Regions from separate parts of the Homo sapiens genome. Here region 1 is linked to region 2. Evidence: fine-mapped expression QTL. A gene starts in region 2. The other region holds a variant in brackets. All regions are shown on one strand. Distances are from middle to middle.

Region 1 (5,380 bases), 69 kb before region 2:
CACCTTGAAAATGAACAGAATAACAGCAATTGTAGGGAACAAGGGAAGGCAACCATAAGGTCTGACTGCCTGCAGGGTCAGGCAGAATACAGCCATATTTTTCTTCTTGCAGAGACCCTATAAATGGATGTGCAAGTAGGGAAGATATTGCTGAATTATTTTCCCAGCAAGGAATATTAATAATTAATTCCCTGGGGAAGGAATGCATTCCTGGTGGGAGGTCTATAAACAGCTGCTCTGGGAGTGTCTGTCTTATGCGGTTGAGATAAGGACTGAAATACGCCCTGGTCTCCTGCAGTACTCAGGCTTATTAGGATGGGGGAAAAAACTGCTCCCTGGTAAATCTGAGGTCAGACCAGTTCTCTGCTCTCGAGCCCTGTTTTCTGTTGTTTAAGATGTTTATCAAGACAATATGTGCACAGCTGAACATAGACCCTTATCAGGAGTTTTTTATTTTGTCTGTGCCTCGTGATCTTTGCTTTGCCCTTTGCCTCGTGATCTTTATTGGCCTCAGAAGCATGTGATCTTTGTTCTCCTTTTTGCCCTTTGAAGCATGTGATCTTTGTGACCTACTCCCTGTTCATACACCCCCTCCCCTTTTAAAGTCCTCAATAAAAACCTGTTGGTTTTGTGGCTCAGGTGGGCATCATGGACCTACCGATATGTGATGTCACCCCCAGCGGCCCAGCTGTAAAATTCCTCTCTTTGTACTCTTTCTATTTCTCAGACCAGCTGACACTTGGAGAAAATAGAAAGAACCTACGTTGAAATATTGGGGGTGAGTTCCCCCGATAGAAAAGTACCCAAACCTCTTAGTAAGCAAACCTCTTAGTTAAGAACCTACCTTATTGGACCAATTGGTGGGAAAAGCATGGCCGTAGAAGATTGGCACTAAGGTGGGGCTGTTAAGATGTGACAAAACAAACGAAGGCTAAGCTGGTGCACATAATAATAACAGCTTCTGCTCCAGGAGACATCTGTGGGCTCCTCAATGGCTCTTCGAGCTCTCGGACGGGTCCAGCCAAGAGAAGCCCCAGCAAATGATGTCTGATCATGTGGAGGCCTTGGTTCTCAGGGTCTCCCTGCTGGGCTGCAGGTGGGTGGTGGCTGCTGTCTCTATGAAAGCCACAGCTCCTGCTGGGCCACCCTCTCTACTACAGCCCAGCCTCTGGATTCCTCCCCTTGCCCTGGGACACTCCAGCATCTCTTGTTCATTTCCCCTGACCCTGCCCACACCTCTGTGAATAGATACTTCATTAATCTCTCCTTAATAACTCACATCAATGTGCCATCTGTTTCCTCTCAGGTCCCTGAGCTTTTCTGTGTGCTAGGCACTGTTATAAATATAAATATACATTTCCTTTTTTTTAAAAAAACAGTTTGTTAAGATATAATTCACATACCATACAATGTACCCACATAAAGGGTACGATCAATGGCTTTCAGAGTATTCGCAGATATGTACAAACAATACCACAGTTAATTTTAGAACATTTTCATCACCTCAAAAAGAAACCCCATGTCCCTTAGCTACTACCCTCCTCTTCCCCACACCCCACCCCTCAGTCCTGAGCAACCGCTCACCTACTTTCTGTAGGTTTCTCTCTTTCTTTTTCACATGAATAGAATGCTATAGTATGTGATCTGTTACAACTGGCTTCTTTTACATAGCACAATGCTTTCAGGATTCTTCCATGTTATTATAGCTTATGTTGGCACTTTGGTCTTTTTTGTAGTTGAACATATTCCACTGTATGAATTTAACACATTTCATGTATCCATTTGTCAGTTGATGGACGTTGGGTTGTTTCCACCTTTTGGCTATAATAAATAATGCTGCTATAAACGTTCAGGCACAAGTTTTTGTGTGGACGTTGTTTTCATTTCTCTTTGGTATACAACTAAGAGTGGATCGCTGAGTTCTATAGTAACTCTATGTTGAACTATTTGAGAACTTGCCAAACTGTTTTTCAAAGCAGCTGCACCATTTTACATTTCCATCAGCCATCTATAAGGGTTCTGATTTCTTCACATTCTCACCAACGCTTGTTGTTATCTGAATTTTTTATTCTGGCCATCTTCGTGGTGGTGGTATCTCATCGTGATTTTGATTTCTATTTCCCTGTTAACTAATGGTGGCAAGCATCTTTTAATGAGCGTATTGGCAATATCTATCTCCTTTTATTCTCACAACTACTTTATGAGATAGGTGGGCTATTAAATCCATTTTACAGATGAGAAGAATGAGGCATGGAGAGTTGAAGTGACTTACCTAAGGTATACAGCGAGTAAGCGTTAGACTAGGATAGGAACTCTAGCAGGCAACCTTCATGCTCCTGTTAGAACACACTGCCTTTGCACAAAAGAACAAGAAGATTTGGGGGATGGCAGGGCAAGAAGGCAGGGTAGCCAAAGAACTTTTAAGAAGAGGAATATCTGCTGTGCCATTTAAAATAGCTCATGTTGCTGCATAGAAATCTCCTTCATTTCCATGTGTGAATGGTTATTTTGTGGAAAGCAAGGAAAGAGGGCCAAGTTCTTTCATGTTTGGGTTAAAGCCAGAGTGAAAATAAAGAACAGCCACAAGCAATAGGGCAGGGATCAAGAACTCAGCTGGGGCAGAAAGCTGGAGCCAGAGCTAATAAGATCATATAGATCCCTTAATAATTCACAGAAATATGGGAGAGGGCTGTAGCTTTCCACAGTCCAGACAGTTCAAACAAACCTTATCTGGATCTGAAGGGCCTGGGAGAGCCTCAGCTGGGTTTCATTTATAAAGTACTTTAGCACAAGTATGGTCATCCCCTCCCCAGTTCACCCCCACCCCGAAGTTCTTAGCCTTGTATCCAAATGAACATGTGGGCACTAAAGCCTGCTCTTTCCTCCTTCTATCTTTGTATTAACACTAAACAAACTGGCCTTTGTTTCTG[A/G]CCTTGAAGAGACAGTAAAATCAACATCATTCTCCAAAATATCCCTCAAAGATGGGCCTATAAGAATTCAGAGAGTTTAGAGAATCGCTGCTTAGAAGCTTTCTCCCCTCAAACTCATCCCAGGAATCTTCTCCCTTTTACTCCCACTCCCACCCTCAACACACCCCCCACCCACACACACACACACAAACTTCCCAATTCACTGCTAGACTGCTTGATGGTTCTCTCTGGTGAGAGAAGCCAGGGTAACAAGGAGGAGGGAATGAGTCTGCAAATCAGGTATATTTTTGAATTTCAATTCTGTATCCCCAGCATCTGTCTGCTGTTTTATCAAGAGGACCAGAGATCATTTAGGAATGATGGACAGTCCTCTGAGGAAGCAATGCCAGAAGCATGATGAGCAGAAATGCTGAACAAGATGCTGGCTGGAAGGGAAATCAATCTCCCAGGCCGATTAGTTTGGGTGGGAGCCAACAGAGGCTGAAACTTGTTACAGCTACAGTCATCTTTCTTGCTACTTTTTTTTTCTTCTAGATCCTGGAGTAAAATCAGATTAGCCTTAGCGCTCAAGGTAGCTAACTGGTCTGCACATGCCATGGCAATGTCTCAAAACAGATGACTATTATTAAAAAATTATGGAGAAATGACATGATGCATCTCTCCATTTGGTCTGTAAGATACTTAAGGACAGGGGCTATGACCTTTCTTCTATGATTTATGGAGTAACTAGCACAATGCTGGGCCCAAAAGGTCACTAAACAACTTGCTGAAGGGAATAGGCTTAAAGTAGACACGAAAGGAACTTTCTTTTTTAAAAAAATAAAACAAAGAGACTTTGTCTAATCTCCCAGCTAAGAAATGAAAGCCAGATGAGTCCAATTCATTATGATGCATAGAGAATAAGATGGATAATTATAAACAGAGAAGCCCACAGAGAAGTTTGGAGAAGGGGGTTGCTATTCAATGTTAAAAACATGATTCTCATACAGATATAGTCGAAGATTGATCTAACTTATTAGTGAGGGAACCAGTAGGAAGACAAATCCAAATCAAAGGAGAATACAAGAGGCTGTTTTCTATGATCATTGAAAGTAAGGATGTAGAAGTGGGTTTGCAAAGCTAGGCAAAACTGTTTAATGTCCTACACAGCAGCAAGATCAGACCCTTTGGGGTTATGTTTTCTATTTGACAGAATTCTTTTGCCTTTCTACTGAACAAGAGTCATTTGCAATGTAGCTATCTTTTCAAGTTAACATCTCATTTTACAGAGTCTGGCCCCTAATCATGAGTAATTGGAACCAGAGAAATGCTCTCTCTCTTTTTAAAAAAATCCTGGGCTGGTATAGCAGGTGACAGTAGCAGTTAGAAGTGTTAATCCTCTTATCTGCCTCTGTGAGTTTAGATGGAAAAGTCAGGGAAGGAAAAGTAGGCAGAGTATGCAATGTGCCTAGCGTCACTCTTGGTAAGCTACCACTTGCCTATAAATAAAAACCACAATGCATGATCACCCATAAACCCAGAAAATGGTTTTCAGAGTGATCTAATCCAACCTGCAATCCCTGGCTTCTTTTCCTCCCCTGACATTTCCATCCACATTCTTTAGGTGGAAGGTAGAAATAACCACCTATCTGAAGTGAATAGACTTACCTCTCCTTGTCTGACAGCTTAAGTCCTAGACTTATGAGCGAGACTTTCCTATTAGGAAGAGAATTAAATCATTGTTAAACAAGTGTTTGTTTTCTTTTGCTTTTTCCTTCACAGGCCAGAAGCCATTTCTCTGGATCCCACTCAAGTTTAGGTGGTTGTGCCAATAGCATCAACTGCATGGGCTGTGTTTATAGACAAGTGGTATCTGACAGTAAGGGAATTGCTTGTTGAATGACTTGGAGGATCTCCCTGCCCTATTGAACCAGGATTAATAAACTCAGCGATGGAGCTTTGGAGGCTTTGCTGTCCACCTCAGGGGATATGGCTTGGGAAGAACTCAAATTCACCTCTATGATATTCTAACACTGGCAGAGGCAAATGAGAGGATTAACACTTGTAACTGTTACTGTCACTTGCTGTACTAGCCTAGGATTTTTAAAAAAGAGAGTATTTATCTGGTTCAGCCCCATTTGCTGCTATGAACCCTCCCAGCCCCTGCCTTTTCTTCCCTGCTGGTTCTAGGGCACCCCAAGGAGCACTCCACATGGGCACATAGCACAATCCTCTGGTACGTAACACCAGTAACCATCATTTCTCTCTAGTTCTGCCCTGAATTCCTGTGCTGAGTTTCATTCCAGAGATCACATACTCCTGTGCAGCTACCTGGACACCACCAGAGCACAGACACCACCATTCATGCCAAAGCCACTGGCACCAGGGCCACAAGTGCCCTGTGCTGTCTGATGCCCTCCATGCCCCTGCTAGGGTCTGTGGAATGACTCACTTAATTCTCTCCTTATGGC
Region 2 (5,380 bases):
AGCTAAAAATTCAGTTCCTCAGTTGCACTCCCTACGTTTAAAGTGCTCAATAGTCACAGGTGGCTACGGGCCACTGTATTGGACAGCACAAATACAGAGTGTTTTAATAGTTGCGGACAATTCTTTTGGATAGCTCTGCTGTAAGGGAACTGCAGGGAAGTACGATGAAAGGCAAGTGCTTGCAAAAGAGTTAGAAGGTAGACAAGAGGTGGATGTCTAGACAGTACAGTACCTTTGTAGTTACTACTTAACTCATTTATCCCTGAGGTTGCAATTTTTAGAATTTTTGCAATCAGACCTTGGCGATGACCTTGAGCAGCAGGATGTAAACAACTCCCGCGTGCTTAGCGTTCCAATAATGGAACACTAGGCATAAGTTAAGTTCTTTCTGTCCAACAACCTCCTTCTAGGAACTATCTTCCTTCTTCCCCAGTTCATCCACATGAGTCTCCTGGACAAATAAGTCTCCTGGACAAATAGTAGCGATGTTAATCTAGGTTATGGAAACTCACATAATCTGGTTATTTACTTAGTAACTATGTAATTGGTGAGGAAAGGATGAATACATTTTTCGGGCTTTCAATATGAAATTCTTTAAAAGTTTGAACAATTGGGTTACTCAGAACTAGCCAGAAACCACAACTTACAACTGTGGTGTCAAGTTCAGATCAATGTCTTGGAGTTCAAGACTGTTTTAAGGGAGGCTGCCTGGGGAAAATGTCATTAAACATTTTACCCGAATCCTCTAGATGTCCATCATAAACTCTCTCATGGAGCTTTCCTAAAGTATAGGCATTTTAATGTTTCCTGAGTAAAACAGTATTTTCTTTGATCCTTCAATAACAATTCTTGCTTGTAGCCAGTTTTCAGCACAGTGCCGGCTTCACAGATACTCACTGAACTAAAGAAAATGGTAAAGGATGAATGTCTATTGAGCATAAAATGCGACTGAGGGAGAGGTTATATAAAAGCAATGGAAGACAGTTTCTGCTCTAGATTTACAGTCCAACCTTACTTACATAAGTGTAAAATATTTTCTTCTTTGTTTCAGTCCCTAATATAGCTATTTTGCTCTAGGAATTAGCATTTCCTCCACAAGAGAGAATCACTAAACTCCCTATTTCTCAATGTTGTTTATGCCGTTGATTGTCCAGGTTCTCAAATTACTAAATGAAGTTGAGAGTTGGGTAAATGGTTGAGCGGTTCAAGTATCTTAAGTAAAAACTAAGTGGCCAATTGTTGTTGTGCTCAGGGTTGGCCTGGGACTGTTCACAATGGTCACAGGTTTACAAATTTTTAAAAACCTGCGTGTGACATGCTTTCCAGGTCCTTTGTCAAAACGTCCGTCTGACCCTGACTTTTGTGTGGCTTCAAATGTGCGTTTGCAATGTGTAGACAAATTCCAACTCAGAGTTCCAAGAGGTAAGCCAAGCTCTGTGTGGCAGCAAGGCTTATCAAGAGCGAGGCTAAGGGGTGAAGTGAGTGTGTGTGTGTGTGTGTGTGTGAGAGAGAGAGAGAGAGAGAGAGAGAGAGACCACTGCTGTGCTCAGGATTCCTCTCTCCTTTTTGCTTTTTGCCAACTAGCTGTTTCTCCACAGCGGAGATCTGAGACGAGTATGTGGCTGATTCGGGCAAAACAAAACAAAATAAAACCAAACGAAACCAAAACAGACTTACTATTACCAAATCTGAGAGTCAGTGGGTGGGAATCCTTTTCAACCAAGGAGACCTGTCCATGGTCCTGACCACATCATTTGCCACTCGCCTCCTTCATGGACACCGTTTGCTCCAAGTACCGGACGGGAGGGCGCCCGGCGCCAGGAAGCTTGGGCTTGGGCCCCCACACGAGCTCGGCGCGCTTCGGGCGGGTCTCGGGCGCGGGCCCGTGGCTCTCCGGGCCGGGCACCTGTTTCGAATCGAGGCGCGAGGCGCGGTGGGGCGGTGGGGTGGGGTGGGGTAGGTTGGGGTGGGGGCGGGGTGGCGTCACGTGCCAGCGGCGGCCCCGGGAAGGTTCCATTTCTTCCGCGGCCCGCACTCGCGGCGCTCGGGGCCCCTCCCTCGCCCCGCCCGCGGCGCCCCTCGCGGCCGCACAGCCGGGCGACTCCGGGCCGGGCCCCGCCCCTCTCGCTGGCGGACTCAGCGCGTCCTCCGCCAGCCCTCGCGTCTGCTGCCCCCGCCATCCAGTTGGTGCGGTCCATGGCGAGCGCATCATGGCGATTGAAGGTAAGTGGAGGCTGACAGCGGGGAGCGAGGACCGGGACCACCCAGCTGGCGGGGGGCTCGGAGGTGCGCCGGCAGGCCGAGGCGCTGACGGGGCCGCCTCCTGTGGTCTGGAGCCGGCTGAAGACGCGCGGGGGTCCTGGCCGCGTCTCGGGAGGCGGGTGGGCGGAGCGGCGCCGCTGGGACGCCGGGCCCGACTGGCTCGCTCGCCCCGGCCTTCGTGGTTTTGCCGGCCTCCCGGCGGCCGCACGCGGGGCAAAGCGGGCTGGCGGGCAGGTACAGCGTCCGGGCCGCCGCCTCCTGCCGGCCGCGCGGAGTGGAGGTCGGGGTGAGGCCCTGCAGACCCCACGGGACGGGCTGGGAGGAGCGAGGGGCCACGGGGGGCTCAGGCTGCCCTTTCTTTTCTTTCCCCGGCCGCGGCAAACCATCCTTCCGCAATACCCACCTTCCTGCCAAACTGAGAGTCCAGTTTTTTGTCCCATTCCTAACCCTTCCCTGTGCCCGCTCGGGCTGATGCTGGGTTACACTCTCTGCCCGTTCCCCTTCTGTTTGCTGTTGTAGGGGGTCCAGGAAATTTGGGGTTAGGTTAATTTCCTCCTCAAGTGGTTTTGTTCCCCGCCAACACTCAAAACTGTTTTTCTCCATGAAAAGAAGTAAATAACGTCTTTACAACAAGCACACATTCTTAGAATCCTGCAAATACCAGTCTATGAAGTGTTATAGTGCCACAATGCTCATATTTCGAAAAACAGCTTAATAAAAATTAAGTTCCTAGATAAGGTAGTTGACACTAAAGTGTATTTTTCTCTTGTTCCAGAAACATGTAACTGGGACCAAGTGTCTATATTTTGCCTTGTTTTTAAGGAAGAGATTGTGAGAATTAATTTCACACGTCTAGGATATTTATGTGAAAGATTACATCTTCCAGGCCCTGTCTCTTAGATTAACTCAAACAGTGAAAGTAATTTGTAAATTTTCCCTGTGTGTGTATATTCATCTGTGCAGCTGTGCAAGGTACCTATAGCTATATCATTATTTCTCTACATTGAAAGTGTGTTCCTAAGTAAAACTTTTTAAAGCGTTTCCCTTCTAAGTGATCAATCACTGGTAGTATGCATCTCTGGGGACTTCTTTTTGTCGGATCATGTGGACTCCAAAGTAGAGTTAGCTGTGTGTTTACATGTAGCTTATTTATTTAAGAGAGGGAGTACCTATTGTATGCAAGACACATTCAGACAGTTTCAAATGTCTGCTTGAGTTAAAATGGTGGGGAATAAGATCTACCTATAATCTATGATGTTCCTGTTATCTGCAGCAGTACTTTCAACATTTGTTTCCCTCACTGTCCTTTTACCAAAGGTTAAAAATCAAGAAACCAAACCCACTGATTTATGTTGTGTACTTTATTTTCCCAACTAGTTTGTGGTAGAGTTTCTTGTGAAGCCGTGAAACTCTACCACACTACCACACTACCACACCACGTGAAAGTAGAAAGGTTTAGGCAGAGCATGAGGAAAATCCTTCAGGCAGATGCCATTCGGATATGATGCTATAACTTGTAATTTCTTAAAATCTTTTCAGTTTTTTCCGTTTTTTCTTAGTTCTTCCTTTCTTTCTACTGGCAGTTAAGTGTTACTGATTCATTTTCCATGTCACCTGATGGCATTTTACTCTGCCTACTGCTTAACATGTTTGAAGAATAAGATTTTTTAAATCCTCACATTCTAGAGATTCTTCTGTGTTTGAGATACTCTCATAAATATTTTCATACTGAAGCATTTGCTTAAGTTTTCATAATACAAAGATCAGGAATTATATCTTTTCTAGTTTGGCAAAGAAACTGTAATTAATATTAGCACTTCAGATAAAGATGGCAGTTCGAATTAGCCTAACTGTGCTCCTTATCACATAGTAAAATAGATTCATTATGCACACCCTTCCTAGGCTGTGTTATGAAGTAGAATGAGTTCTGCATGAGACTCTGTACTAAGGACATCTTAAAAATTTAGGGGCCCAAAAGGGCGTCTCATCTTTTCAGTAAAGTGTTTCTTAAAACATTCAGTTTCTTCATTCACCTATTAATTCAGTAGACCTTTTTTTTTTTTGTACAATAGCTGTATACAATGTTCATTGCTAGATTCCATGGGGCCAAAAAGATAAGTAAGACTATAACCCTTCTCTCAAAGAGTTCATGTTCTATTCGGAGAGACAGATAATTTTAAACATGCAATTACAGTGTAGTGTGAATGCTAAGAGATGGATCATCTTTCCTTTGTATAAAAACATTCAATGATGATGGGTCTAACACTGTTTTTTGGCAGTAATTCTTATATTCATAAGGTCTTTGTATTTGGCCGAATATCTGCCATTCAGTAACGTCTGTCTACCCATCCTAGTTTTGCTTTCTGTAGCAATAAATTAAAAGCCCACTATTCTCTCTATATATGATATCCCTTCTGCCATTTGAAGACAGCTCTAGAGTGTTTTCTAGATAAAATATCCACTTCCCTCCTCTGGATGATCTGTAGTTGTATGTTTTAAAATTTGGAATATAGTAGTGGGCCATTTCATTCCAGTTATACTGTTGAATAGCATACATCAAAACTGTTATACCACTCCTTCACTTATGTGTAATCCTATTAATATAGCTTAACATTAGAATAGGTTTTTTTGGAGCTTCATGTTGGCACAGAGCGAGGCTGTAATCAACTAAAACCACAGTCTCTTTTAGCTTGACTACTCCCTTGCTTAGCTAACCAATGTTTTGAACTGAACAGATCGTTTATATCTGTTAAGCATACTCTTATTAGCTATGGCCCAGTGTTTTAGCCCTTGAGTCTAGACTTTTAAGTACTAAGGATTGTTTTCATTTTCTTCTCTGTGTAAACCTATTTTATAACACAAAATTATTTCTACTAAGTAATCATTCATTTCCTCCTTTTATCAGTCAGATGTGTAACTATTAATCAAAAAAAGAGACAAATATAAGATGATAGAGTTACCACATGGAGCTAACATAATTCCAGTCAGCAGTAAAGAAGTTAGGCTATATTAGGCAAAGTTACAATTTTTGAAAGGCATTTTGAAATATTGACAATAGTTACACATCCTTACTGTTGGCCCAGTGATCTGGCAATACCAGGTTGGGAATCATTGTTGT

Which allele goes with the higher level. Positions count from the first base shown, and alleles are read on the strand shown. Sizes are in standard deviations (SD) of each study's normalised expression.
With allele G in place of A in region 1, the expression in tibial nerve of the gene that starts at base 2,163 in region 2 is higher (large effect, 0.88 SD a copy in GTEx).

What was found. PIP is the estimated chance that this variant, and not a neighbour inherited with it, causes the effect. A credible set is the group of variants that fine-mapping cannot tell apart.
Region 1: its variant is the best candidate, but not a certain one, in a credible set for the expression of SYT14 in tibial nerve (GTEx, PIP 0.67).

The regions. Positions count from the first base shown.
Region 1 is chr1:209,866,860-209,872,239 of GRCh38, forward strand. No RefSeq gene overlaps it. Among named protein-coding and RNA genes, the nearest start is that of UTP25, 42 kb to the left of the region's middle. The variant A/G (reference allele first, on the strand shown) is at 2,931.
Region 2 is chr1:209,936,055-209,941,434 of GRCh38, forward strand. It overlaps SYT14 (synaptotagmin 14), which reads left to right and starts at 2,163. Exons shown (of 9, transcript NM_001146262.4): 1 at 2,163-2,223. The coding sequence starts at 2,211. RefSeq lists a silencer at 1,610-1,904.